Regions from separate parts of the Homo sapiens genome. Here all the other regions are linked to region 3. The links come from fine-mapping of genetic effects on gene expression. A gene starts in region 3. Each other region holds a variant in brackets. All regions are shown on one strand. Distances are between the middles of the regions.

Region 1 (5,101 bases), 53 kb before region 3:
CTCCTTCTCTACAAAATACAAAAAAATTAGCCAGGTGTGGTGGCGTGCACCTGTAGTCCCAGATACTTGGGAGACTGTGGTGGGAGAATCACCTGAGTCCAGGAAGTCGAGGCTGCGGTGAGCTGTGACTCTGCCACTGTACTCCAGCCTGCATGACAGAGTTAGACTTTGTCTCAAAAAAAATTTTTTTTTTGGCTAGGCGCAGTGGCTCATGCTTGTAATCTAGCACTTTGGGAGGCTGAGGCAGGTGGATCACGAGGTCAAGAAATTGAGACCATCCTGGCCAACATGGTGAAACTCTGTCTCTACTAAAAATAACAAAAATTAGCTGGGCATGGTGGCATGCGCCTGTAGTCCCAGCTACTCAAGAGGCTGAGGCAGGAGAATCGCTTGAACCCGGGAGGCAGAGGTTGCAGTGAGCCGAGATAATGCCACTGCACTGCAGCTCAAAAAAAAGAAAAAAAATTTTTTTTAATTAAAAAGTTGTAATATCTAAAATGAGCAAAATCACTGTGTGCCGCCGAGGCGGGTGGATCATCTGAGGTCAGGAGTTCAAGACCAGGCTGCAGTGAGCCGAGATTGCACCAGTGCTCTCCAGCCTGGGAGAAAGAGTAAGACTCCGTCTCAAAAAAAAAAAAAAAAAAGGAAAAATGCATTTAAAAAGGACAGCATCAACCAGGTACAGTGGCTTATGCCTGTAATCCCAACACTTTGGGAGGCTGCGGGGAGAGGATAGCTGAGCCCAGGAGTTTGAGACCAGCCTGGGCAACATGGTGAAACTCTGTGTCTACAACAAAAATTGGCCAAACGTGGTAGCATGCACGTGTAGTCTCAGCTACTTGGGAATCCTGGGGGCAGGATTGCTTGAGTCTGGGAGGTTGAGGCTGCCATGATTGCACTACCTACTCCAGCCTGGGCAACAGAGCAAGACCTTGTCTCAAAAAAGAAAAAAAAATGCAAAAACAAAACAAAAGAGAATAGCATCATTTCCTTATCATTAGTTTGAATGAAGTGAGTCATTGGTAAAAGTTTCCATTTTCAAAAAAGGCATTAAAATATAGTGTGAGGCCAGGCATGATGGCTCATTCCTGTAATCCCAGCACTTTGGGAAGCTGAAATGGATTGCCTGAGCCCAGGAGGTTGAGGCTGCAGTGAGCCATGTTTGTGTCGCTGCACACCAGCAACCTGGGCAACAGAGCAACACTTTGTCTCCAAACAACAAAACGTGGTTTACCACAACCAACAGGAAAAATCTGGATAAAACTGTATGAAATATTTACTGCTGTGCTCAACATGGTAGTGTAGAGATCAAGGGCAAAAGTCCTGGGGTCAGGCCACCTGGTCTGCTGTGTAATTAGCTGTGTCATCTTTGGAAAGGTAGTTGAACTCTCTGTGTCTTAGAATTCATTTTCTAAAATGTGGGCGGGGCGCGGTGGCTCATTCTTGTAATCCCAGCACTTTGGGAGGCTGAGGCGGGCGGATCACGAGGTCAGGAGGTCGAGACCATCCTGGCTAACACGGTGAAGCCCCGTCTCTAGTATACTAAAAATACAAAAAATTAGCCAGGCATGGTGGCGGGTGCCTGTAGTCCCAGCTATACTCTGGAGGTCATTTTGGCTAATAACATAACTCTCCTTTTGAGTGAAAGGGTTAAAGTGTTCCTCTCAAAAGTACTTATTTTTTAAGCTTGTTCTTCAGATTTGGCCAATATCCTAAGCAAAATGCCTTCAATATGAAGTAAATATTGCTTGATTGTAGGGAACTTGTCCATAATGTACTTGAGAATGCAGATACAAATAAAAGAATGTCCGTGTCAGATTTTATTTTCCACAAATTATGTTCTCTTGCACTTTCAGCTTAAGTTCTTGGACTCACTGAGGCAGTAAAAGAACCATATCCTGTGTTTGAATCAAATCCCAAGTTCCTGTACGTAGAAGGTTTGCCAGACAGGATTCCCTTTCGAAGCCCTCCTGGTTTGGAATTCCATGACTTGAAAGGATCGTCCATGGGAGTAATAAAATCAAATTTGTTGGTAAAAAGTAAGTTTTAGGCCAGGCGTAGTGGCTCACGTCTGTAATCTCAGCACTTTATGAGGCTGAGGTGGGCAGATCACCTGAGGTCCGGCGTTCGAGACCAGCCTGGCAAACATGGCAAAACCCCGTATCCACTAAAAATACAAAAAATTAGCCGGGCATGGTGGCGGGCACCTGTGATCCCAGCTACTTGGGAGGCTGAAGCAGGAGAATCACTTGAACCTGGGAGGCAGAGGCTGCAGTGAGCCGAGATCACAACACTGCACTCCAGCCTGGGTGACAGAGTGAGACTCTGCCTCAACAACAACAACAACAACAACAATAAAAAAGTAAGTT[A/C]TATTTGCCACTGTAGTCATTTCTGGAATTAAAACAATAAAATGACATTTCTACTAAAATGTTTTTCTAGCTAGAAGTGACAGGTGTGTCTGTAAGTCCTTGATGGAAAAGCCTGGCTCTGAGCTGCAGTCCTGGCACTCTCCATTGCCCCTGCCATTCCCCATCCCATACTCAGTCATCTTCATCAGTGCAAGAATAGTGACCACTGCCTCCCCGATGTTCAGACACACTGTGGTGGCTTGCAGTATGCCTAAGTACTTGAATGAAGTTTAATCTGCTGGGTTTTATCTGCTCTGTTATTCCTGGGTCAATCTTATTAGCAAGTAAATATTGATGATTGAGTTTCTTTTCCTTTTTCTGAGACAGAGTTTCACTCTTGTTACCCAGGCTGCAGTGCAATGGCACGATCTCGACTCACTGCAACCTCCACCTCCCAGGTTCAAGTGATTCTCCTGCCTCAGCCTCCCAAGTAGCTGGGATTACAGGCATGCACCACCATGCCCGGCTAATTTTTGTATTTTTCGTAGAGACGGTGTTTCACCAAGTTGGTCAGGCTGGTCTCAAACTCCTGACCTCAGGTGACCCACCCACCTCAGCCTCCCAAAGTATGGGGACTGCAGGTATGAGCCACCGTGCCCGGCCTGATGATGGAGGTTTTTTTTTAATTATATCTGCGTTTCTGCAGAATTTTGGTGGCTGAAGAAAGTACACTAGTGTTAATTTTCTTTTTCATGAAAGAAGTAATTTACTTTTCATACAATTACTTGCCAGTCATGGGAAGGAAAAGTCAGGGTTTTCATCTACAATGATAGGAATTATTGTGACATTACAGGATGACTCTGTGAACACCTTTAGGAAAAAACCCTGGTCATATCACAACCGTTTTACTAGCTGTGAGGCCACCATTGTACTGGCTGCTGTAACATTTCTTGGTTTTCTTTCTAGACCTGAACTGGTTATTTCCTACTTGCCTCCTGGAGTTGCTAATAAAATAAACACTAAAGGTAAGAGATTACCTGTGTTTTGTATTATATTTCACTACATTAAGACATTCTTTATCAGCATTCCTTAAATCACACAGAATCATTGGCCATTCTCTTTGTGGGACTTGCAGTTAATTTCTTGGCTTTTTAAGGTATTTTATTTAATGGACCTCTTTTTCTTTAAAAAAAATTTTGTTGGAAGTGTCACATTTGCAATCCCACTTCATTCATGTTTCCATGGCTTTGTTGAGTCCCCTGTGGAGGATTACACTACAAGTTTAATTCTGCAGGTTTCTTTGAAAAGAGCCAAACTGAATGAATTTTAATACTCCGCTCTTATAAAGCATTTCCTTCTGTATTTTTTTCTACAATATACTAAAGTAATTCTGTGCTTTATTTTATAGCTTCGCAGTTTCTAAAAAGACCATGAAGCCCTGAGAGTAATGAAAAGGTTCCTGAAATTGAGGTCACTGTGGAAGGTAAGGGCCAGTCCTTGGCATGTTTCTGTTGATTCTCCAGTTTAATAGTTATGTCAATTCACTAGCTACATGTTTATACAGATGAAGGTAACCAAACTAGTTTTACCTGTGAACAGCTGCCTGTGATAAAGCTAAATTTCTGAATGTCTTTAATTGAAATTTTGAAAATTATTAACAGGAAATAAATAACATGGATCACATCATAAACTGCACTCAAGAAAATCCCTAAAATGCTTTTCCTTTATTACAACAAATAAGGGTGCAGAGGGTCACATGGAATGTTTCATCTTTTGTCTTGTTTTTTCTGTTCTTTTAAGGAAAGAAAGTTGAGGGGTGGTTTAAAAAGCAGTGCCTGGAATGAAAGTATTTCCTACAACATCCTCTAATGTACTTCCTTCTCTCCATGCCCACGGGGTCTGCAGGGTTCTCATCTTTTCATGTTCACAGTATTAAAATACTTCCTACAATACCAAAGACAGTTCCCAAACAACCATCAAATATGGGTATTTCTTCCATCTCCTCATAAATGCAAAAGGAAATAACCGCATTAGGATCATTCTTTTTTATTTGGAGATGAAAGTCTCGCTCTGGCACCCAGGCTGGAGTGCAGTGGCATGATCTCTGCTCACTGCAGCCTCAGCATCCCAGGTTCAAGCAGTTCTCCTGCCTCAGCCTTCCGAGTAGCTGGGACTCCAGGTGCACACCACCACATCTGGCTAATTTTTTGTATTTTAGTAGAGATGGGGTTTCACCATGTTGCCCAAGCTGGTCTCAAACTCCTGAGCTTAGGCAGTCTGCCTACCTTGGCCTCCCAAAGTGCTAGGATTACAGGCGTGAGCCGCCACGCCCAGCCTAGGATCATTTTTTTTTATGTCCTAGGTGTCGATTTTTTAAATAAGGGTTTGCAGTACTGGTGTTTAGTGGTGCAGTAATTTCCATTTAATAATCTGGCATACTCAAAGAGAGGATACCAGATGACTTAAGAGTATACCTCACAGAGAGTATACCAGATGACAGAGTATACCAGATGACTGAGAGTATACAGAGAGTATACCAGATGACTAAATGGGGATTAGAGTATTTAAACTCTTCATTCATTCATCCTGTTAAAGGAAAGCTTACTTAATAACATAAACTCTTGGTTATGAATTAGATGTTTCTCCTATGAAAGCTTGTGGGCATCTTTGAGCAACTTAATACCTGACTATTTCTGTTCAAAAATGCCGAGAACTAAAAATCCATTCAAACCTTTACTTTTCTCCTTTTGGAA
Region 2 (5,084 bases), 63 kb after region 3:
AACCTGGCCCAGGACCCTCAGTGCAAGGAGTGGCAGGTGAGCCGGGGTCCCTGGACAGGATGGATGGGGGGCCAGGCCCATGTCCAGCCCTCACCCTATTCCTCCGGCAGGTGCTTATGTGCGGCTTTCCCTTCCTCCTCCTTTTCCTCGGCAATTTCTTCACCACCCTGAGGGTTGTGCACCACAAGTTTCACAGTCAGCGGCACGGGAGCAAGAAGGATTGAGGCTGGGCCTTCCCCTGCCGGCCCAGAGGGGCTTCTGTCCTGTGTGTTGTGGGAGGGGATGGGAGGCGCCCCTCGAGTGTGCGTGTATCAGGGGGTCTCTTCTATTCTCCCTTGGGTTTTATGGGCGCTGTGGGCCCTGAAGGAAGACCTGGGCCCAGTGCCCTCAATAAAGAGAGGCCCAGAGGTGGCCTGAGCGTGTGTGTTCTCCTGGGGGAGGGGAGGGCTGGGTGGCCCCACCACATGGGTTCCTGGGGTCTGAGTTAGTTAAGTTGATGCAGGTGGAGGTCCCAGATCTACTCACACAATACCAGGCAAATACAGAAAACAGAACTTTATTCCAAGGGCCAGAGGTTATTTAAAATTATTTACACTCACTGGAAATCACGTGGAGGGGCTGGGCCCAGCTCAGCAGAGAGAAAGAGCCCTTCTGTGCAGCCACCGAGGGCCAGAGGCCTCCAGAGGCATGGAGCCCGGTGCCCCCATGCAGGCCCTGGGCTGTGCTGCCAGGGGCCGGTGGACCTCACCTGGCCTGGGGGCTGAGGAGGATGCACCCCAGGCCCAGAGGAGTCTTTGTCACTGGGCCTGCGCCCATGCCAAGGCCAAGCCAAACACACCCAGGAGACTACGGGAGGGAGCCAGGAGAGCTGATTACAGGCCGGAGTCTGTGGGGTGGGTGGGGCAGGCAGGCCCCTAGCTCCACACGTCCAGGGAGTAGCGGCCCTTGGTCATCAGTTTCTTGATGTAGTCCACCGCCTGCGCGTGCTCCATGGCCCCGAGCTCAGCCACGATGTCGTAGAAGGTGTTCTGCACATCCCTGGCCATGTTCCGTGCATCCCTGGGCAGGAAGAGGGGGTGCTGGGGGCTGGGCCAACTGTGGCAGGCAGGGCCTTGTCCTCCCTGCCCCCTATTCCAGTGACCCCACTCACTCACCCACAGACGTAGATGTGGGCACCGCCTTCGATCAACTTCCACAGGTGCTCTCGGTCTTGCTTTAGCAGGTGCTGGACGTAGACCTGGGGCCAAGGGTGGTGCTGTGAGGGGGGCACTGTGGCTGTGGCCCTGCCAGCCTCATGCCCACCTTCGTGGGTGCCCGCCCGTCTCACCTTGTGGGACTGCTCCCGGGAGAAGGCCACGTTGAGCTGGGTGAGCGCACCGTCCCTGTGGAACTGCGCCAGCTCCTCCCGGTACAGGTAGTCCTCATCCGAGCGGCGGCAGCCGTAGTACAGCAGCGTCTCCCCCACCTCCTTGCCTGCGTGGCAGGGGCCGGGGTGAGCGCGGGGCTCCCAGTCGTCACCCCCTCTCCCCCATGGGACCCCACTCACCCTGCTGTCGCAGCCAGGCCCGCTCCTGGATGAAGCCTATGAAGGGTGCCACCCCGGTGCCGGGGCCCACCATGATGACAGGCGTGGTGGCCTTGAAGGGCAGGCGGAACTGGGACTTGCGCACGAACATGGGCACCAGCGCACGGCCGCCGTTCTCCCCGGCAGGCTCCTTGGCCCGCAGCCAGTTGGTGGCCACGCCCTTGTTGATGCGGCCAGCCTTGGTCTCGTACTCCACAACCACCGCACAGATGTGCACAGAGTTGGGGTGGACCTGTGGGGAGGGCCGTGTGAGCTCCACCGCCACACCGAGGCCCTTGCCCAGCCCCGGCCCCAAGTCCCGTTCTGCAGGCCAGCCCCACTCACCCAGGGCCTCTTCCAGCCCACCTGGCACCCAAACCTCAGAGGCCCCCTCCCCAGCGGCTTCCCGGACTGGTTCTGGGGACCGGGGCTGGACAGATGCTGAGAATCTCACAAGCCAGCCCGACTGAGTCCACAGCCTGGGGAGGCATTTGGAGCTGCGCTGGGGCTGGAACTGGAGCTCAGGGCTCAGATCTCGGAGCTCCTGTGCCGCCTTGCACTCTGCCTGCTGTGAGCAGGGCTGGGCCTCCAGCGTGTGGCTGGCAGGGCAGTGCCGGCCCTCACCTTGGAGGATGAGGCGATGGAGTAGTAGCGGGCCTGCAGGCGCGGCAGCAGCTCACACAGGTGGTCGATGGGGGGCCGCAGGGACGGGCAGTCCTGCAGGATGGCCAGGATGTGCCTCCGGGCCTCCACCACCCAGCTCAGGTACAGCTCCTAAGAGACACGGGGGTGAGATGGGGCTGATTGGGGCCCACGGAGCTCGGAAAACGGCGGGGTGACGGGGCGGAGGTTGCGGGGGCT[G/A]AGGGGGCGCACCTTGCCCTCGCCGGAGGAGGAGGCCATCTTGCGCAGCAGCTCCTGCTCCGAGGGCTCCGAGGCGTACTGCGCCAGCTCGTACAGCACGTTGGTACGCGGCGGGTTGGTGATGTCCAGGTAGTAGGTGAGGGCCGTGCGGTAGGACGTAGGGCACGGGAATGGGTGCTTCTTGTTGGACTCCTCTGCAGGGAAGAGACAGGCAGGACTTGGGGTAGGCGGCCGCCTCCTGGGGATGGGTGGCTGCGGCAGGAGGGGGTGACACCTTGGGCCAGCTCTGCGGCAACAGGTGCCCCAGCTGGTGCTGGAAACAAGGCCTATGCTCTCTGATGCCTCCCTGGCCCTGGGGCCAAGTCTGGGGCCTCCAACCAGACAGGAAGTCCTCATCAGAGGCAGGACCCTGCTAGGGGAGGTGCGGGGGAGCCCCTGCACACTAACGCACCCGCTGTGCTTTCACCGCACACTACACGGTCTGACACAGCCCCGCCCAGGCTTCCCTACAGGCGGGCTGTGGAAGCCGACAGTAAGGGCAGCCCTGGCATGGCAGCTGAGGACCGGCAAGCAGGGGTGGGGCGAGGTGGGCTCGGCCCAGGTTGGTGACCAGTGGGGTCCGAGGGCTTCACAGCGGGAGGCTCAGGCTGGGCAGCCCCACCAGGCCCAGGCAGCCCCGCGTAATGGCTACTGCCACTCGGCACCACTGTGCACCCTTGGGGGCCTGGGAGGGCTGCTGACTCCTGACTTCAGTGAGGAGGTGGGGGCAGCCCCAGGCCGGCAGAGGTGGGTCGTGGAGCCAGGCCCTCCTTCCCAGCAGGACACAGTGGCCATGGGGGAGCCAGGGCTGCCTCTGCCACCAGGCCTCAGCACCTCACTCCCTTAAAGGACTATGACAGTGACGGGGTAGGGGGAACCCCGACAGAGAGGGCTAGACCCCTAGGGCCACCCCGCCTCCCGTTTGCTTGGGATCCTGTAACCGTGGAGTCTCGGTGCAAGGGCCTCCCAGGCACCGGGGCTTCAGGCCTAAGCAGAAGCTCAACCCAGGGCCTTCCTACAGGCCCAATCCCGCGGCTGCCTGAGCCCGGCAGGGCGCCCTGACTGTGGCACTCACCATCCAGGTTGTTCAGGGACATGACGACGTCCAGGTCGGCACCCAGGATTTTGCCCAGCTGGTTGACGAGAGCAGAGTCGTTGGCTGGGTACACAGCCACGTGGTCCCCAGATTCATACCTGGAGGGAGATGTGAGGCTCGGGAGGGGCGGAAGGCTGGCCCTGCCCCAGGTCAGGAGGCCCAGAGTGAGGGTTCAGGGGGTGACAGTGGCAGCTGGTACCTGATTTTGGAGTCCGAGATGTCCAATTCCAGGTGCATGAGGTGGCGCTCGGTTCCCTGGTTCAGCTTCCGGTTGGTGGTGACTGCAGCCAGGAACGGATTCTTGGCATCAAAGGGGCTGGGTGGGGAGGAGAGAAGCACAGTGAGCGGCCGGGGCTTTGATCTGAGTCTCCGTCTCCAAGGACGCTTCTGGTTGCACAAAGCACAGGGAATCTCAGAGATCTCCATGAGGAAATCTCACCGGTTACATCAAGGGCTCTCCCAGCCTGGTCCAATGCAGTTCTCTTTTTTTTTTTTGAGACAGAGTTTCGCTCTGCCACCCAGGCTGGAGTGCAGCGGCGCGATCTCGGCTCACTGCAACCTCTGCCTCCCAGGTTCAAGCAATTCTCCTGCCTCAGCCTCCTGAGCAGCTGGAATTACAGGCATTCGCCACCATGCCTGGTTAACTTTTATATTTTTACTAGAGACGGGGTTTCACCATGTTGGCCAGGCTGGTCTTGAACTCCTGACCTCAGGTGATTCACCCACCTCGGCCTCCCAGAGTGCTGGGATTAGAGCTGTGAGCCACCTCGCCCAGCCCTAATGCAGTTCTCTCTATAGTCCCACCACATGGGCAGAGCTGGGTCATCAGTGTCTGTTTACAGATGTGGAAACTGAGGCTGGCCCCTAAAAGAACTGTGAGGCCCAAGCTGACGGTGCCACAGGCTGGAAGGTGGCTGGTCCCCAAATGAGGAGCACAGCTCCCCCACCCCCACACGTCCTGGACTACACCGTGGACAAGAGAGAAACTTGCACTCCGGAAAGCCACCGACATGCAGGGCTTCTCGCTCCAGCCAGGCTGGGGCAGGCCTACAGAAAGCAGGGCAGCTGGTCTTGGATGCAGTGGCACGAGGACTTCCCTGGGTGGCTCGGGCAGGAATCTGGGCAGCAACCAGGGGCCATCAAGGGCACAGAGAGGAACGCCAGGTTTCTCCCCCAAGTCTATCTATGGAGATAGATTCTAAGAAAATGAGCCCTTCTGCCAAAGAGGATCCTAGCCACAGAGGCCAATGCACTGTCCTAGTCGAGAAGTGGGATGTGCCCCGCTGCCCTGGGCAGTGCAGAGTAAGGTGGCTAAGTGAGCTCAGTACAAACTGGGCGAGTGCCAGTCTCCTGGGGCCGGGCCGTGGACAGGTCGTGGACACTCACACCCACTCGGGGCACGGGGTCTGGTGAGAAGGGCCCTGTGGGGATATGGGGATACACGGCAGACTGAGCCTGGGGTGCACCAGTGGCCATAGAGCCGTCTGCCCCAAGCCACGCTCCCTCCACTCACGGCTTCTGGTT
Region 3 (5,089 bases):
CTGTGATTCCCACCTACTCGGGAGGATGAGGCAGGAGGATAGCTTGAGCCCAAGAGTTGGTTGCAGTGAGCCAAGATGGCGCCACTGCACTCCATCCTGGGCAACAGAGTGGGACTCTGTCAGGTCCATCCTGGCCAACATGGTGAAACCCCATCTCTACTAAAAACACAAAAATTAGCTGGGCACGGTGGTGCGCGCCTGTAGTCCCAGCTATTCGGGAGGCTGAGGCAGGAGAATCGCTCCAACCTGGGAGGTGGAGGCTGCAGTGAACCGAGATCACGCCACTGCACTCCAGCCTGTCGACAGGGCGAGGCACTGCATCAAAAAAAGTAAATAAAATTGGTACCCTCTTCCCTAACACAAGCACCCTACAATCCCCATTTTTCTTGCATGTTCATCACTATTTTAAGATACTTTATAATGAGTGGGGCAATAAGTAAAATATCTAGTAATTTCCGTGAGAGCAGGGACTTCTGTGTTTTGTTCACCGCTGTATTTCCAGTACCTAGCTCAATAAATATGTCGGATATCTGAAGGTCCTACCAAAACTCAACCTCTCCCTGGACACCCCTGTCCTCTCTTTGGTTGGCTGCCCCTCCCCCACACCTCATCCCTCCTGTCCTGTTTACTCATTCCCTAAGACCTTCATCGCCTCCACCTGTCCTAAGTTTACTCATTCCCTAAGACCTTCATCGCTTCCACCTGTCCTAAGTTTACTCATTCCTGTCCCATATCAAGTGTCACTTCTCACTTATCTTGGTATCCCCTGCAGCACCCAGCATAGTTGTTGGCAAGCACAGGTACTTAATGTACTTATCTGTATACAGCTGGGCCCCCACTTCACCGCAGCGCAAAAGCATTTGGTACATTCAACTTACAATGGGGTTGCCTGTGGGAACCCATTGCAAGTTGAAAATACACAAAGTTAAACTCGCCTTTTGACTTAGGATATTACCAACTTGCGATGGGTATGGGAAGTAGCCATCAATCCAGGAGCATTTGTATTTATTTTTCAAATGAACTGGATGTACAGGAAACTCGAGAACTTCGATGATAAATTTGGATTCCCCTTTAAAATTACCTCCCTCTTGGGCGTCGTAATTAAAAGGCAATGCGAGCACCTCCTGGGTTCTCAAAATTAGGTTTAATTAGATTCACCTGGTAAAAATGCGGACCCCCCCCCCCCCCCCCGCAGTCTTAAGCTTCTTCAATGAACCCAGACGTCTGTTTTTTATTAGCTTTCTGGTGATTCTGACACACTGCAGAGTTTAAGAACCACCATTCTAGAAGATGGCTAAAAATAGCCTAGGCTCCTAGGCTTAAGTGGTCGCGGGCCAAGTCAAGCACTGTTAAGACACCTGGCGGCAGGCTCAGTCCGCCCACAGCAGGAGAGATCCTCCAAAAAGGTTAAGAGGAAGCCGTCTTCAGGTCAGAAGCGCTGAATTCTAATCCTCTGGCCAAATGACTGTAACCCTGGCCCAGTTCTCTAGCCTCGGTTTGTCCATACTATGGAATTAGGAAGTATACGATTTCTTTTATTCACGCACAACTCACACGGATGCTGCAAGGAGATTAGCTACGTCAAAGCAATGGAACGCTGCAGAAAAAAACGTAAGTTTACTTTCAGATGCAGAGCCCTGGTTTCCCAACCTTGAAGGCGTGCAAGCCAAGAGCAGGTCCTCTGGGAAATCTGGGAGACCTGGGGGAACCCTGACAAATGGACCGGCCCTGGAGCGGGACTACCTCGCCCCCTTTTCCCCGGCTTTCTCCCCCGCACCTCCAGGCCAGTGTCAGGGCCTGCCCCGGGCGCCACAGTCTCCAGCCAGTGCCGGGCATCCCTGCGGTCCAGGCTGGCCTGGAGAGGGTCAGAGCTGCCCGCGAACCGGGGACGCACGTGGCCCGGGCCGGGGGGCCTCCGCCTGCAGGCCGCCCCTCGTCTGGCCTACCTGGGCCGAGGTGCTGAAGCTGCGGCGGAGAGCAGCGCTGGCAGGCCGGGCGAGGGCGGAGAGCATGGCTGGAGCGGGAGGGGCACCGACTGGCAGGCACAGGAGCTGGTGACGGGGAAGTGACTCCAACGACCTCCACACTGCCCAGCGCCTGCTCTCTGGGGCCTCGCGAGAGTGACCGGACTTCCGGTCGCGCTCGCCTCCGGGATCTCGTGAGATCACGGCCACTTCCGGGAGTCGGAAAGGAAAGCTGTGGGACCATCCTGGCAACCCCGGTGTTTGGCTGGGTTCTAGCGTAGCCGTCTGTGTGGCCGGTGGGGGACCTGCGGTCGGAGTGGGAGGGCCAGTCTGCACCCAAGAGGTGGAAGAGGACGGGCTTTAGGCTGGAAGCGCCTTAGAGGAGCCATTTTTCCAGGTGGGGCCCCAGGCAGAGGCTCCGACAGGGAGCCTGGCCATAGTCGCGCAGCCGGGGAGGTGGAGCGCGTCCCAGACCCGAGCCCCCGACCTCAGCCAAACCCATTCCTTCTGCCCTTGGAGGCCAGAGGGGACTCTGAGCTCCGGAAAGGTAGGGTCAGGGAGGCTGAGAGTCCTTAGGCGGGGTGGGAGGAAGGGGCCATCTCCTCAGATCCGGGCCGTCGTTTCCCAAGTTGCAGAGACCCTTGGGTTCAGGTTTAGTGACACCACTGCTGATAATGGCGACCTCCAGCCCTGCAAGCTTTAGAGGACCACTATTCTGTGTTCCAGATGAGCAAATAGGTTGTAGGGACAACAACTTCCGTGGTCATACAGTTCCTGTCTTCTCTCGCCTGCCCGGCAGTGCTCTGACGGTCCCACTGTTTCTGCTTTACGAATAAAGACACTGTGGCTGAGGCCAAGTGGATTTGTAGAGTTTACGCAGACAGAAAGTCGAGTAGAATTCCTTGCTCACAATGAGTTTATTACTTAAATGTATGAATTTATTTATTTTTTTGAGACGGAGTCTCTCTAGCCCAGGCTGGAGTGCAGTGGCGCGATCTTGGCTCACTGCAACCTCTGCCTGTCAGGTTCAAGTGGTTCTCCTGCCTCATTCTCCTGAGTAGCTGGGATTAGCGCACCACTACACCTGGCTAATTTTTTGTATTTTTTTTTTAGTAGAGACGGGGTTTCACCACGTTGGTCAGGCTGGTCTCGAACTCCTGACCTCGTGATCCACCCGCCTCGGCCTCCCAAAGTGCTGAGATTACAGGCGTGAGCCACCGCGCCCGGCCTGATACATATTTTTAAAATTAAACAACACCCCCAGGCAAGGTGGCTCATGCCTGTAATCCCAGCACTCTGGGAGGCTGAGGCGGGCCGATCACTTGAGGCCAGGAGTTCATGACCAGCCTGGCTAACATGGTGAAACCCCATCTCTACTAAAAATACAAAAATTAGCCCAGCGTGGTGGTGTACACCTGTAGCCCCAACTACTCCGGAGGCTGAGGCAGGAGAATCGCTTGAACCCGGGAGGTGGAGGGAGGTTGCAGTGAGCCGAGATAACCCCACTGTACTCCAGCTTGGGCGACGGAGAAAGACTCTGTCTCAAAAAAAAAAAAAAAAAAAGCCGGGTGTGGTGGCTTATGCCTGTAATCCCAGCACTTTGGGAGGTCAAGGCGGGCAGATCACCTGAGGTCAGGAGTTTGAGACCAGACTGGCTAATGTGGCGAAACCCCATCTCTACTAAATATACAAAAATTGGCTGGGCATGGTGGCGTGTGCCTGTAGTCCCAGCTACTCAGGAGGCTGAGGCAGGAGAATCCCTTGAACCCAGGAGGTGGAGGTTGCTGTGAGCCAAGATTGTGCCATTGTACTCCATCCTGGGTGATAAGAGCTAAACTCCGGCTCAAAAGCGCGCGCGCGCGCGCGCGCACACACACACACACACACACACACACACACACACACACACACACACACACACACACACACACACAGCAGATAAGCTGAGACATGCTGGAAGAGTAGGTGTTTCTCAATGGAACATTCAACTCCAGAGGAGGGAAAGATCCCTTGCCTTGGAATCAGAATTCTCAAAGGAGGGGCACTAGGGCCTGAGCATTTAACAATGGGAAATGTTTAGACAGGAAAGGAGGAGAAAAAAGGCCAAATAAAATCCTAGCGGGAAAAAATAAGCATAGGCCAGTATTCAGGGGACAGTGAATAGATCATTTATTTTGGAGTGGGGACATTAGGGCAAGCAGTGTCCTTTGTTTATCTTATCACTGACTGCATCTTCTGGTAATTATTTACTCCTCTGTCTTGTAACTGAGAGCACCTCAGAGCCAGGTATTAAGTCTTGCCAGGTACTAAGTCTTTCTTCTGTTTTTTTTGTCCAACATGCGACTGGGCTGAAAGGGCCTCAGTGAATTTGTGGAGAGTTGAGTGGTTTTAGGTACAGCTGGAAACAGCAGGTTGGGAAAAACTAGATTGTGCCGGTCCCATGAATGTTAGCTGAGAAGTTTGTATTTCATTTCTTGGGAAGCAAGTGTTTATCAAAGGTTGTTTATTTATTTGAGATGGAGCCTCACGCTGTTGCCCAGGCTGCAGTGCAGTGGCGCGATCTCGGCTCACTGCAACCTCCACCTCCGGGTTCACGCAGTTCTCCTGCCTCAGCCTCCCAAGTAGCTGGGATTACAGGTGTGCACCACCACACCTGGCTAATTTTTGTATTTTTAGCAGAGACAGGGATTTGTCATGTTGGCCAGGCTGGTCTAGAACTCCTAACCTCAAGTGATCTGCCCGAGTCAGCCTCTCAAAGTGCTGGGATTATAGGCGTGAGCCACTGCACCTGGCCAATCAGGCTTTTGTGACACTGCCAGAACTGTGTTTGAGGAAGATTAGACTGACCTTGTATGCTAAGAATTCCCAGGAAAAAAAAAATGGAGATTGTTTAGGAATCTATTCAGGGAGATTGTTTAGGAATCTATTTTATGGATGACAAAGGTCTGAATTACGGTGGTGGCCATAGAAATGGAGTGGGTAGGGCCAGTGTGGGAGAAGTCTCATGGGAAGAATGGGTAACAGTCTGTGCTCATCTGGGTTTGAGGAGTGAAAGAAAGAGGTGTGGAAAATACATAAAGAGGGAAGTCGGGTTATACAAAGGAGAGGAGAAAAATAAAGGAGGT
Region 4 (5,101 bases), 180 kb before region 3:
GATTCAAGAAATAAATGGGCCAATCTGGCAGGGTTTGTAATTGACTGGATGTGGGATGGGGGAGGCAGCTTAGATGACACCGGGTCTCTGGCCTGGGTGACCAGGTGGATGGTGCAGCCATTTATTGTGATGGGGAACACGGAGAACAAATTGGAGGTGCTTGAGGGTGAGGGGTTTGCAGGGGCAAGCAGGCAGATATGGAGTCTAGAGCTATAATCTGAACCCTAACTCTAACTTGTTCTGGTCTTTGGGGGCATTGACACTGTACTTCTTTGGAGGCAGAGCAGCACATGGGAAGTCTTTACCCTACCACTGATTGGCTGAGAGCAGCACATGGGAAGTCTTTACCCTACCACTGATTGGCTGAGAGCAGCACATGGGAAGTCTTTACCCTACCACTGATTGGCTGAGAGCAGCACATGGGAAGTCTTTACCCTACCACTGATTGGCTGAGAGCAGCACATGGGAAGTCTTTACCCTACCACTGATTGGCTGTGAGACCATGAACAAGTCCCTTCCCCTCTCTGCACCCTTGTTTCTCCCACTGAACAATGACTCAAAGACCCCAAGGGTCCTTTCCTACTCTGGAAGTCTGGGTAATACTAACTCTAAGTGTGTGGCACCAGGCTGGGTGTGGTGGCTTATGCCTGTAATCTCAGCACTTTGGGAGGCCGAAGCAGGTGGATCACCTGAGGCCAGGAGTTTGAGACCAGCTTGACCAACATGGTGAAATCCTGTCTCTACTAAAAATACAAAAATGAGCTGGGTGTGGTGGCACATGCCTGTAATCCCAGCTACTTGGGAGGCTGAGGCAGAAGAATTGCTTGAACTCAGGAGGCGGAGGTTGCAGTGAGCTGAGATCACACCGTTGTACTCCAGCCTGAGGAACAAGAGCAAAACTCCATCTCAAAAAATAAAATAAATAAATAAATAAATAAATAAATAAATAACACCAGACCTTCAGCCCACTTCCTTTCTGCTGATACAGCCAGGAGCCGGGGCCCCACCGGCCACCCTTAGAGTTCAACTGAGGCTGTCCCCAGCACTGGGTCAGCTCCCAAGGGCAAGCCCAGATGCTGGAGCCAGCCAAACCCATGTGTAGATTAAGTCATGAAGCCCTAGTTTAATGCTTGCCAAAGGGGCACACTCCTTCTTCTACAAGCCAGGAAGTGGTTAAAAGCCTAGAGGCCTGATTTCCCAGCCTCCTGGCTGGGTCCCTGGAGTTGCCTCCCTCCCACAAGCCCAAGCCTGGGTTTCCTGAGCAAGCCTGGGTGTGGACACAGTGGGCCACAAACTGGATGCTGCTACCTGCAAGTGATTAATTGAAGGTGAAACAGCTCATCTGTACTGCAGGGTCCAGCCTGTTTCGGAAAGTCAGCTGCTGACAGGCACAGAGGCCTCTTAGCTAATGAGGTCAGCACTCACCCTGGGGCTCAGAGGGAGAAGATGCTCAGATCGTAGTGACCTGGTCAGGTCTGGGGGAGAGGGAATGGGCTGTAGTGAGAAGTGGACCACAGATGAGTCTGGGAAGAGGCCCAGCCCTGCCCTGGGGACCCCTGATTTGAGAGGGAGACAGGAGAGTGATCTTTGGGAATTCATAAGCTGAGAGACCTAGGGCACGTGACTTCAACTCTCTGGGTCTCAGTTTCCTTGCCTGTAAAATGAAACTATTTAATAATAGCATCTTCCTCATAGGTTTGTTGTAAAGGACTAATGCATGGGAAATGCCCTCACAGTACCTAGTATGCAATGAATGTCTCGTAAAAGGCACTGGAGATTAATTATTATTATTATTATTGTAGAGACAGGGTCTCACGTTGTTGCCCAGGCTGGTCTCAAACTCTTGGCCTCAAGTGATCCCCCGCCTTGGCTTCCCAGAGCACTGGGATTACAGGAGTGAGCAAACTCCTCCCTGCTCCCCTTGTCTCTGGCAGCGTCGCAGTCCTCCAGCACCACGGACAGCACCCCCATCACCAGTTCAGGGGGCCCCATTTGCTGCCGGGGCTGAGAAGCCTCTTTTGCCGGGGAAAGGGGCGGGGGGGGCGGGGAGGGGGGCAGCACCGTTCCTCTAGGGGCTTTTTTTTCCTGGCCTTGCCAGCCAGAGGCATGCCTCCCCAGAGGTAATGTCAGGACTCAGAGCCTCCACACGCTCAAAGGTACAGATTCCCACAGCTTCAAGTAAGCACTTGAGCACTTCGTCTGTGGTCACACAATTTAACCACCTTCTTACTTCTAAGATCTTTCTGCTGTCTTCTACTGGGGCCAGGAAAAAGAGTGTTAGACCAGGACAAGGACTTGGAGTCAGAAGACTTTAGCTTAAATTCTGGCTCCACTACTTCTGCCTGGGTGATCAGGAAAAGTCATTAAACTTCTCCGAGCCTCAGTTTCCTCATCTGTAAAATGGAGTGTTGGGATTCGGTCAGGCTGGTGGAAAAAATATTAGTTATGATAGCCACAAAACCCTTTCGGAAGGCCTGAGGGTTTTCACATGACTTCGGTAATAGACCGGGGCGAAGGTGGGCTGGTCCCATTACCTTCAGTTAAATAGATTAGAGTAGTAAATAACGGGATGTGGGGAAGTTATCTAGTTAACTTGTTTACTCATGTGGTCTCAAGACGAGCCTTTGATGTGTGCTTTTTACTCGGGAAGTCCTCAATGTCAATTACCTCTAATGGCGCTGACTCAAGCTTTTGTTAACTAATCTTAATGAATAAATGTGAGTCTCCCTAGCTGATCGGGGCGGCCACAGTGACAAACCTCTCTTGGTGTGTAGGCGGTCACTCAGCAGGACTGGCAAAACAGAATCTCTGTGTATCAGTGTACGTTTTATTCATCATTTGGGTCAGGGTCTGTGGGCAGACCCTCGTAGCTAATACCCTCTTGTGAGGAGCAATACCTCGACGGAGACAATATTCCCTAGTCTTGTAGCTTGTAGCTTAGTGGGATCATTCATTCATCCTTTCTTGCGGTAACAGGCTTGTTATGAAGAGATTCTGATGCCATTCTCCCACCCACCCACCCAGTCCTGCAGGAGCAAAAAAGAGACCAGGGAGGCTCTACCTTTGCCTAGGATGGTCAGGGAAGGTTTCATGAAGAGAATGATGTTAGA[C/A]ATGTGCCTTTGAAAGATGTGTCTTTGGCCGGGCGCGGTGGCTCATGCCTGTAATCCTAGCATTTTGGGAGGCCAAGGTGGGCAGATTGCCTGAGCTCAGGAGTTTGAGACCAGCCTGGGCAACATGGTGAAACCCGGTCTCTACTAAAATACAAAAAATTAGCCAGGACTGGCAGTGTGCGCCTGTACTCCCAGCTACTCAGGAGGCTGTGGCAGGGGAATCGCTTGAACCCAGGAGCGGAGCTTGCAGTGAGCTGTGATCGTGTCACTGCACTCCATCCTGGGGGACAGACCAAGACTCTGTCTCAAAAAAAAAAAAAAAAAAAAAGAGGGAAGGGAAGAGAAGGGAGAGGGAGAGAGGGGAAGTGGGGGCAGGGGAGAGGGGAAGTGGGGGCAGGGGAGGGGGAATTGGGGGGAGGGGAGGGGATGCTCTGTCAAAAAAAAAAGAGGGAAGGGAAGAGAAGGGAGAGGGGGAGGGGGGCAAGTTGGGGGAGGGGAGGGAAGGGGTGGGGAGGGAAGGGAAGGGAAGGGAAGGGAAGGGAAGGGAAGGGAAGGGAAGGGAAGGGAAGGGAAGGGAAGGGAAGGCAAAAGCCAAGGGCATGTTAAGATCCAGGGACCCTTGGCTAAGAGGGCTACAGTGGAATGGAATTTATGATCCAGGAAACTGCATTCCTGTGAAGGTGGTGGCTGCAAACGCAGGATGAGACCTTCCAGAGAAAAAGCCCAGTGTGGTGACAGCAGGTGGGCAAGGATGTGCCTCCTGAGGAAAAAGATTCTTTCCAACTGTCAGAAACGAGACAGAACTGATAAATACCCATGAAACCAGGTCCTTAAGTTGTGAAACTCATTCTGGGTCTTGTTAAAAATAAGTGTGTGCAACAATCGTTTGTCAAGATACTTTATCAAGCTGGAAAAGAAAAGCCATCTGCATCATGTCCAAGGAATCTAGGTGTGTCCCCACTCCAAATCCTGGCATTGAAGCCAGGTGCAGCCATGACAGGGACATATTCCCTGGAGCACTCTCCTGCTGACCCTTCCCTTCCCTGTGTAAGGACCCTTCTGCAGACCTCCAGCCTTGAACACTTTATATTGAAAGCTTCCCCTGTGCTCACTGCCCAAGAGCGTGGGGCTGGGGGGGTAAGGACCAGAGGACCAAGAGACACCCCATCAACTTCAGGGTTGGGTCATTCATTCAGGTCACAGCTATTTGTGAGTGGCTACTCTGGGGTTCACCAGAGGACACGAGAGAAATGCAGAAGGAGAAGCACTGGTGCTTATCATGCTGGGGATGATGGATGCATGGCAGAGACATCTAACAGCTGGGGTGCGTCAGGAGAGGAGCATAGCTAGGAGGTCTCCCTGGAGGAGAGATCTTGAAGCATAAGTAGGAGTTGGCGGGACAAAGGAGGAGGAGAAGGATGTCCTGGTCAGGGTGTGGGGGTGAGCAGGAAGAAGGCATGGAGAGGAAAGAGGGAAAAGCATGGACTTGAAGCTGGGCGCGGTGGCTCAATCCTGTAATTCCAGCACTTTGGGAGGCTGAGCCAGGAGAATCATTGGAGGTCAGGAGTTCGAGACCAGCCTGGTCAGCCTGGCCTGTCTCCACTAAAAATACAAAAATTAGCCAGGCATGGTGGCGGGTGCCTGTAATCCCAGCTACTTGGGAGGCTGAGGCAGGAGGATTGCTTGAACCCAGGAGGCAGAGGTTTCAGTGAGTCAAGATCACGCCACTGCACTCCAGCCTGAGAGACAGAGGGAGACTCCATCTCAAAAAATTAAAAAAATTAAAAAAACAAAACAAAACATGGGCTTGTCTTGCTGAGCCCACTAAGCCAGGAGGGGAGGGAGGGCCAGGTCCCCAGGGCCTTCAGACTCAGGCTGAGGACCTAGGACCACACCCTGCAGGCAATAGGGAGCCAGTGAAGGGTATTGAGCTGGGGAGGTCAGATTTGCATTTTGGAAAGATCTCTCTTGCAACTTTTTTTTTTTTTTTT
Region 5 (5,101 bases), 43 kb before region 3:
TCACAGGACTATAATGGGCTACATGGCAGGAGGTGAGTAGAGGGTGGGCGAGCGAAGCTTCATCTGTATTTACAGCTGCTCCCCACGTTACCACCTGATCTCTGCCTCCTGTCAGATCAGCGGCAGCATTAGATTCTCATGTGAGCACGAACCCTATTGTGAACTGTGCATGCAAGGGATCTATCTTGCTCTGTCCTTAGGAGAATCTAATGCCTGATGATCTGTCACTATCTCCCATCACCCCCAGATGGGACCATCTAGTTGCAGGAAAAGAAGGTCAAGACTCCCAGTCATTCTACATTATGGTGAGTTATATAAGTATTTCGTTATATGCTACAATGTAATAATAATAGAAATAAAGTGCACAATAAACGTAATGTGCTTGATATATCCCAAAACTGACCTTTGCTGCCCCCAGTCTATGGAAAAACTGTCTTCCACAAAACTGGTCCCTGCTCCCCCAAAAATTGGGGACCGCTGCACTCAACACAGAGAGAAAAACAAAAAGCTCAAGTCTTTACCTCTCAGCGTAAGTCATGGTCTAAGATCCAGAGAGCTTCCATGATAGCCCAAACACAATTCCTTATTTCTTGTATCCACAGGGCTAATATTATTGGAAATCAAACACAAACTTAAATGTGTTGGTTGCTGAATTACAATGACAGTTGAATTCACTGTCACCAAGGTTCTCATGAGAATGTTAGGGCACTAATAAGTGAAGAATGGGATCTTTTTCTTTTTCTTTTTTTCTTTCTTTTTTTTTTTTTTTTTTGAGGCAGTCTCCCTGTGTTGCCCAGGCTGGAGCACAGTGGTTTGATCTTGGCTCACTGCAGTCTCAACCTCTCAGGCTCAAGCTATCCTTCCGCCTCAGCCTCTGGGGTAGCTGGGACCACAGGTACGAGCCACCATGCCCAGCTAATTTTTGTGTTTTGTAGAGATGTGGTTTCATCGTTTCATCACATTGTTCTGGCTGGTCTCAAACTCCTGGGCTCAAGCCATCCACCCACCTTGGACTTCTAAAGTTTTGAGATTACAGGCAGGAGCCACCATGCCCAGCCCTTTTCTCTTTTACACTGGTTTATTGTGAGGGCCTCCAATTGTCTTTCTGACTATTAGGCTTGCTCACTTCGGCCTGTTCACTGAAGCCAGAGGAATTCTCCTAAAAGGCAAATTTGGGTCAAAATAGTTCTTGATTAAAACCTGCTGGTGACTGCCCATTGCCTTTAAGACGAAGTCCAAACTAATTTGGCCACAGGGCCTGGTAAGAGCTGGTCTCCGCTCACCTTCCCAGTTTTATCCTGCACCACCCTCCCCAAATCCCTACCCTCCAGCCACAAGGAATGTTAGTTTCCTTGGGGGACTTTACTGGTCCTTCAGGAAACCCTCTTCCTACCTCCATCATCACTTTTTCACTCTCATCTTTGCTCATTTTTAGCCTCAGCCAAGATGTCTCACCCCACTCTCTCTGATGCAACAAGAAGCCCCTGGAGAACGTTTCAGTCCCATTTTGTACTTCTGTCATGTGCTCATCACAGTCTGGTAAGTGTTGGCCTGTGATTCCTAGATTAGTCCATTTTGCATTGCTATAAGGAAACACCTCAGGCTGGGTAGTTTATAAAGAAAAACAGTTTATTTGGCTCACAGTTCTGCAGACTATACAAGTAGCATGGTGCCAGGCTGGGAGCAGTGGCCCACACCTGTAATCCCGGCACTTTGGGACGCTGAAGCAGGAGGATTGCTTGAGCCCAGAAGTTTGAAACCAGCCTGGGAAACATGGTAAGATCTTGTCTCTGCTAAAAATAAAAAAAAAATAGCCAGGTATGGTGGTGCACTGATGCATTCCTGTGGTTTCAGCTACTTGAAAGGCTAAGGTAAAAAGACCTGTTTAGCCCAGGATGTCAGGGTTGCAGTGAGCCATAATTACACCACTGCTCTCTAGCCTGAGTGTCAGAGTGAGACCCTGTCTCAGAAAAAAAAAAAAGCGTAGTACCAGCATCTGCTGGTGAAGACCTCAGGAGGCTTCCTCTCATGGCGGAAGGTGAAGGAGGAGCCGTCATGTCACTTGTTGAGAAGAGGGAGCAAGGGAGAGGGGAGGAGATGCCACTCTCTTTAAACAATCAGCTCTCACATGAACTAGTAGAGAGAGAACTCATTCATTACCTTGGGGAAGGCACCAAGCCATTCATGAGGGATCTGCCCCCACGACTCACACACCTCCCACCAGGCACCACCTCCAACATTAGGGATTTAATTTCAATATGTGATTTGGAGGAGACAAACGTTCAAACTGTATCAATTTCCTGCTACCCTATAAGCTCTGCGAGGGCAGAAACTTTTTTTTTTTTTTTGATACGGAGTTTCGCTCTCATTGCCCAGGCTGGAGTGCAGCGCCGCAACCTCAGCTCATTACAACCTCCGCCTCCTGGGTTCAAGCGATTGTCCTGCCTCAGCCTCCTGAGTAGCTGTAGCTGGGATTACAGACATGCACAACCATGCCCCGCTAATTTTTATACTTTTAATAGAGACAGGGTTTCACCATGTTCGTCAGGCTGGTCTCGAACTCCTGACTTCAGGTGATTCACCGGCCTCGGCTTCCCAAAGTGCTGGGATTACAGGCATGAGCCACCACGCCCGGCCAAGGGCAGAAACTGTTATACCTTGTTCACCGCTGTTTCCTGGGCACCTATTATAGTGCCTGGTATATAGTAGGAGCTCAAGAAGTGTTTGTTAGGGCCTGATGTGTTGGCGCAAGCCTGTAATCCCAGCTTTTTGGAAGGTGGGGGCCAGAGGATTGCTTGTGCCCAGGAGTTCAAGGCCAGCCTGGGCAACGTAGTGAGACCCTGTCTCTAGAAAAAATAATAAACTGGCCAGGCACGGTGGCTCACACTTGTAATCCCAGCACTTTGGGAGGCCGACGTGGGCAGATCATCTGAGGTCAGGAGTTCAAGACCAGCCTAGTGAACATGGTAAAACCCCATCTCTACTAAAAATATAAAAATTAGTCAGGCATGGTGGCATGCACCTGTAATCCCAGCTACTCGGGAGGCTGAGGAAAGAGAATTGCTTGAACCCAGGAGGCAGAGGTTGCAGTGAGCTGAGATCATGCCACTGCACTCCAGTCTGGGCAACAGAGCGAGACTCCGTCTGAAAAAAAAAAAAAAAAAAAAAA[AAG/G]ACAAGAAAAAATAATAAATTTAGCTGGGTGTGGTGTTACATGACTGTAATCCCCGCTACTTGGGAGGCTAAGGTGGGAGGATCACTTGAGCCCAGGTGACGGAAGCTGCAGTGAGCCATAACGAAGCTGCAGTGAGCCATAATCATCCGCCTGTACTTCAGCCTGTGTAACAGAAGGGGACTCTGTCTCAAAAAAAGTAAAAAAAAGAAAAAGAAATATTCATTGGGAAAATAAAAAAAGAGTGAACAAGCAAAGTTTCAGGAGAGTACTGTGAATGTGGGTCGTGTCAGTAGAGTGTAGGGAGTTGGGCAGGAGCGGCTGGACTTGAAGAGCAGGTTGGTGGAGACCAGGTCATTTATCGTAAGCAGTTTGCCCTGTAGCATGTAGATCAAATATCCCACATTGGCTGCTGGCGACTGAACTGGGCTTCCTGTTTCTGTGTTTGGTTTGACCATCACAGTGTTGAAGAACTATTGAAGTGAATACCTTGCAGTTTGCTACAGTTCCCCCTGGTCTCCCACATTACTCTGGCCTCATTCCCTCCTGTAGGTTGCCTGACCTGCTGAGACCTGTGTTTGCTATCCCTGCAGATGGGTGGGTAGGAGGTGATTTAAGGAGGAAGATTTAATATATGAGTTATAGAAAGATAAATAGACTGGGCACAGTGGCTAAAGCCTATAATCCTAGCACTTTCGGAGGCGAAGGCGGGAGGATTAGTTTGACCCAGGAGTTCAAGACCAGTCTGGGCCACATAGTGAGACCCCGTCTCTACAAAAAATTAAAAAATTAGCCAGGCATGGTGGCATTCACCTGTAATCCCAGCTACTCAGGAGGCTGAAGTGGGAGGATAGCTTGACCCCAGGAGTTGAAAGCTGCAGTAAGCAGTGATCTTGCCACTGCACTCCAGTCTGAGTGACAGAGTGAGACCCTATCTCAGAAAAAAAAAAGCAAGAGAGAGGTAAATAGATCTAGCATTGGTGGGAGTGTGCTTTTGAGTGCTCTTTAGGAGAAATTTTTATTTTAATATTTTTTTCTTCTTTAAATTTTTTATATTCCAGCAGGCTGGGTCCATTCTCTCCCCTTTAATTTCTCAAACACAAAGCGCCCTGCCAGAATCTCAAGTTGGATCTGCAGTAGATCACCATTAACATAGCAGCCTGATATGTTGTAAGTCCTTATGCCAGGAACTGTGCAGGATACAAAATGTAAGAGAAGGCTGGAATAGAGCATCTCTGGGGGAAACGAGAGCCAGAGATACAGCGGTGTCCCATGGAGACAGCCAGCTGGTGTTCGGTAGTGCTTTGTGGAAAGGCTGTACTTTGGTAAGGTCTCCACATCTGCAATGTGGCCTTCAATATTATAGGTCCCCAAACTCCAGGTTTTTACATTCCCTGCATAGGTCAGGGTTGTAGGGAGTGATTCACCCTAGCAGAACTCCCTGGTTTTTAAGGCAGGTGTTCCATTTATTAATTGACAAAGGATGCAAATTTCTCCTTTGGTAACCTGATGAGTTAGGTCTTTTCCCCAGGGACTCCCTTTCCACCTGAAGTTTCTTGGAAAACTAAGCAGAGGATGAGGGAAAGGCTGTGAACAAGCTTGCTGGTCCATCCCGGTCCTAAAAAAGAGCATACGTCTTCTGTAACCAGAAGACCTTTTTCACTAGTCAAGGCTGGGCAGACTGAGATGAGGTGTGTGTGTGTGTGTGTGTGTGTGTGTGTGAAGGCTGGGCAGACTGAGATGAGTGTGTGTGTGTGTGTGAAGGCTGGGCAGACTGAGATGAGGGGTGTGTGTGTGTGTGTGTGTGTGTGTGTATGTTTTCTCACTCTGTCACCCAGGCTGGAGTGCAGTGGGATCAGAGCTCACTGCAGCTTCTACTTCTGCAGCTTCCACTTTGATCCTCCCACTTCAGCCTCCAAAGTAGCTGGGACT

Evidence for each region. PIP is the estimated chance that this variant, and not a neighbour inherited with it, causes the effect.
Region 1: its variant is fine-mapped to the expression of STYXL1 in lung (GTEx, PIP 0.97).
Region 2: its variant is fine-mapped to the expression of STYXL1 in whole blood (TOPMed, PIP above 0.99).
Region 4: its variant is fine-mapped to the expression of STYXL1 in whole blood (TOPMed, PIP above 0.99).
Region 5: its variant is fine-mapped to the expression of STYXL1 in macrophages (Nedelec 2016, PIP 0.95).

Annotation. Positions count from the first base shown.
Region 1 is chr7:76,098,170-76,103,270 of GRCh38, reverse strand. It overlaps the pseudogene GTF2IP7. Among named protein-coding and RNA genes, the nearest start is that of MDH2, 53 kb to the right of the region's middle. The variant A/C (reference allele first, on the strand shown) is at 2,370.
Region 2 is chr7:75,982,312-75,987,395 of GRCh38, reverse strand. POR (cytochrome p450 oxidoreductase) reads right to left here. Exons shown (of 16, transcript NM_001395413.1): 8 at 5,074-5,084; 9 at 3,760-3,876; 10 at 3,540-3,658; 11 at 2,438-2,619; 12 at 2,189-2,338; 13 at 1,547-1,817; 14 at 1,328-1,473; 15 at 1,155-1,237; 16 at 541-1,059. The coding sequence ends at 915. It overlaps TMEM120A (transmembrane protein 120A), which reads left to right. Exons shown (of 12, transcript NM_031925.3): 11 at 1-36; 12 at 111-565. The coding sequence ends at 224. Among named protein-coding and RNA genes, the nearest start is that of TMEM120A, 9.7 kb to the left of the region's middle. RefSeq lists an enhancer at 3,428-4,627. The variant G/A (reference allele first, on the strand shown) is at 2,426.
Region 3 is chr7:76,045,084-76,050,172 of GRCh38, reverse strand. It overlaps STYXL1 (serine/threonine/tyrosine interacting like 1), which reads left to right and starts at 2,173. Exons shown (of 9, transcript NM_001317785.2): 1 at 2,173-2,511. MDH2 (malate dehydrogenase 2) reads right to left here and starts at 2,067. Exons shown (of 9, transcript NM_005918.4): 1 at 1,947-2,067. The coding sequence starts at 2,012. RefSeq lists enhancers at 1,136-1,917, 2,193-2,272, 2,383-2,472, 1,918-2,700 and a silencer at 1,783-1,942.
Region 4 is chr7:76,222,415-76,227,515 of GRCh38, reverse strand. All of the region lies in intron 1 of SRRM3 (serine/arginine repetitive matrix 3), which reads right to left. Among named protein-coding and RNA genes, the nearest start is that of SRRM3, 23 kb to the right of the region's middle. RefSeq lists a silencer at 1,838-2,038 and enhancers at 2,383-2,887, 4,226-4,726. The variant C/A (reference allele first, on the strand shown) is at 3,111.
Region 5 is chr7:76,088,501-76,093,601 of GRCh38, reverse strand. It overlaps the pseudogene GTF2IP7. Among named protein-coding and RNA genes, the nearest start is that of MDH2, 43 kb to the right of the region's middle. The variant AAG/G (reference allele first, on the strand shown) is at 3,170.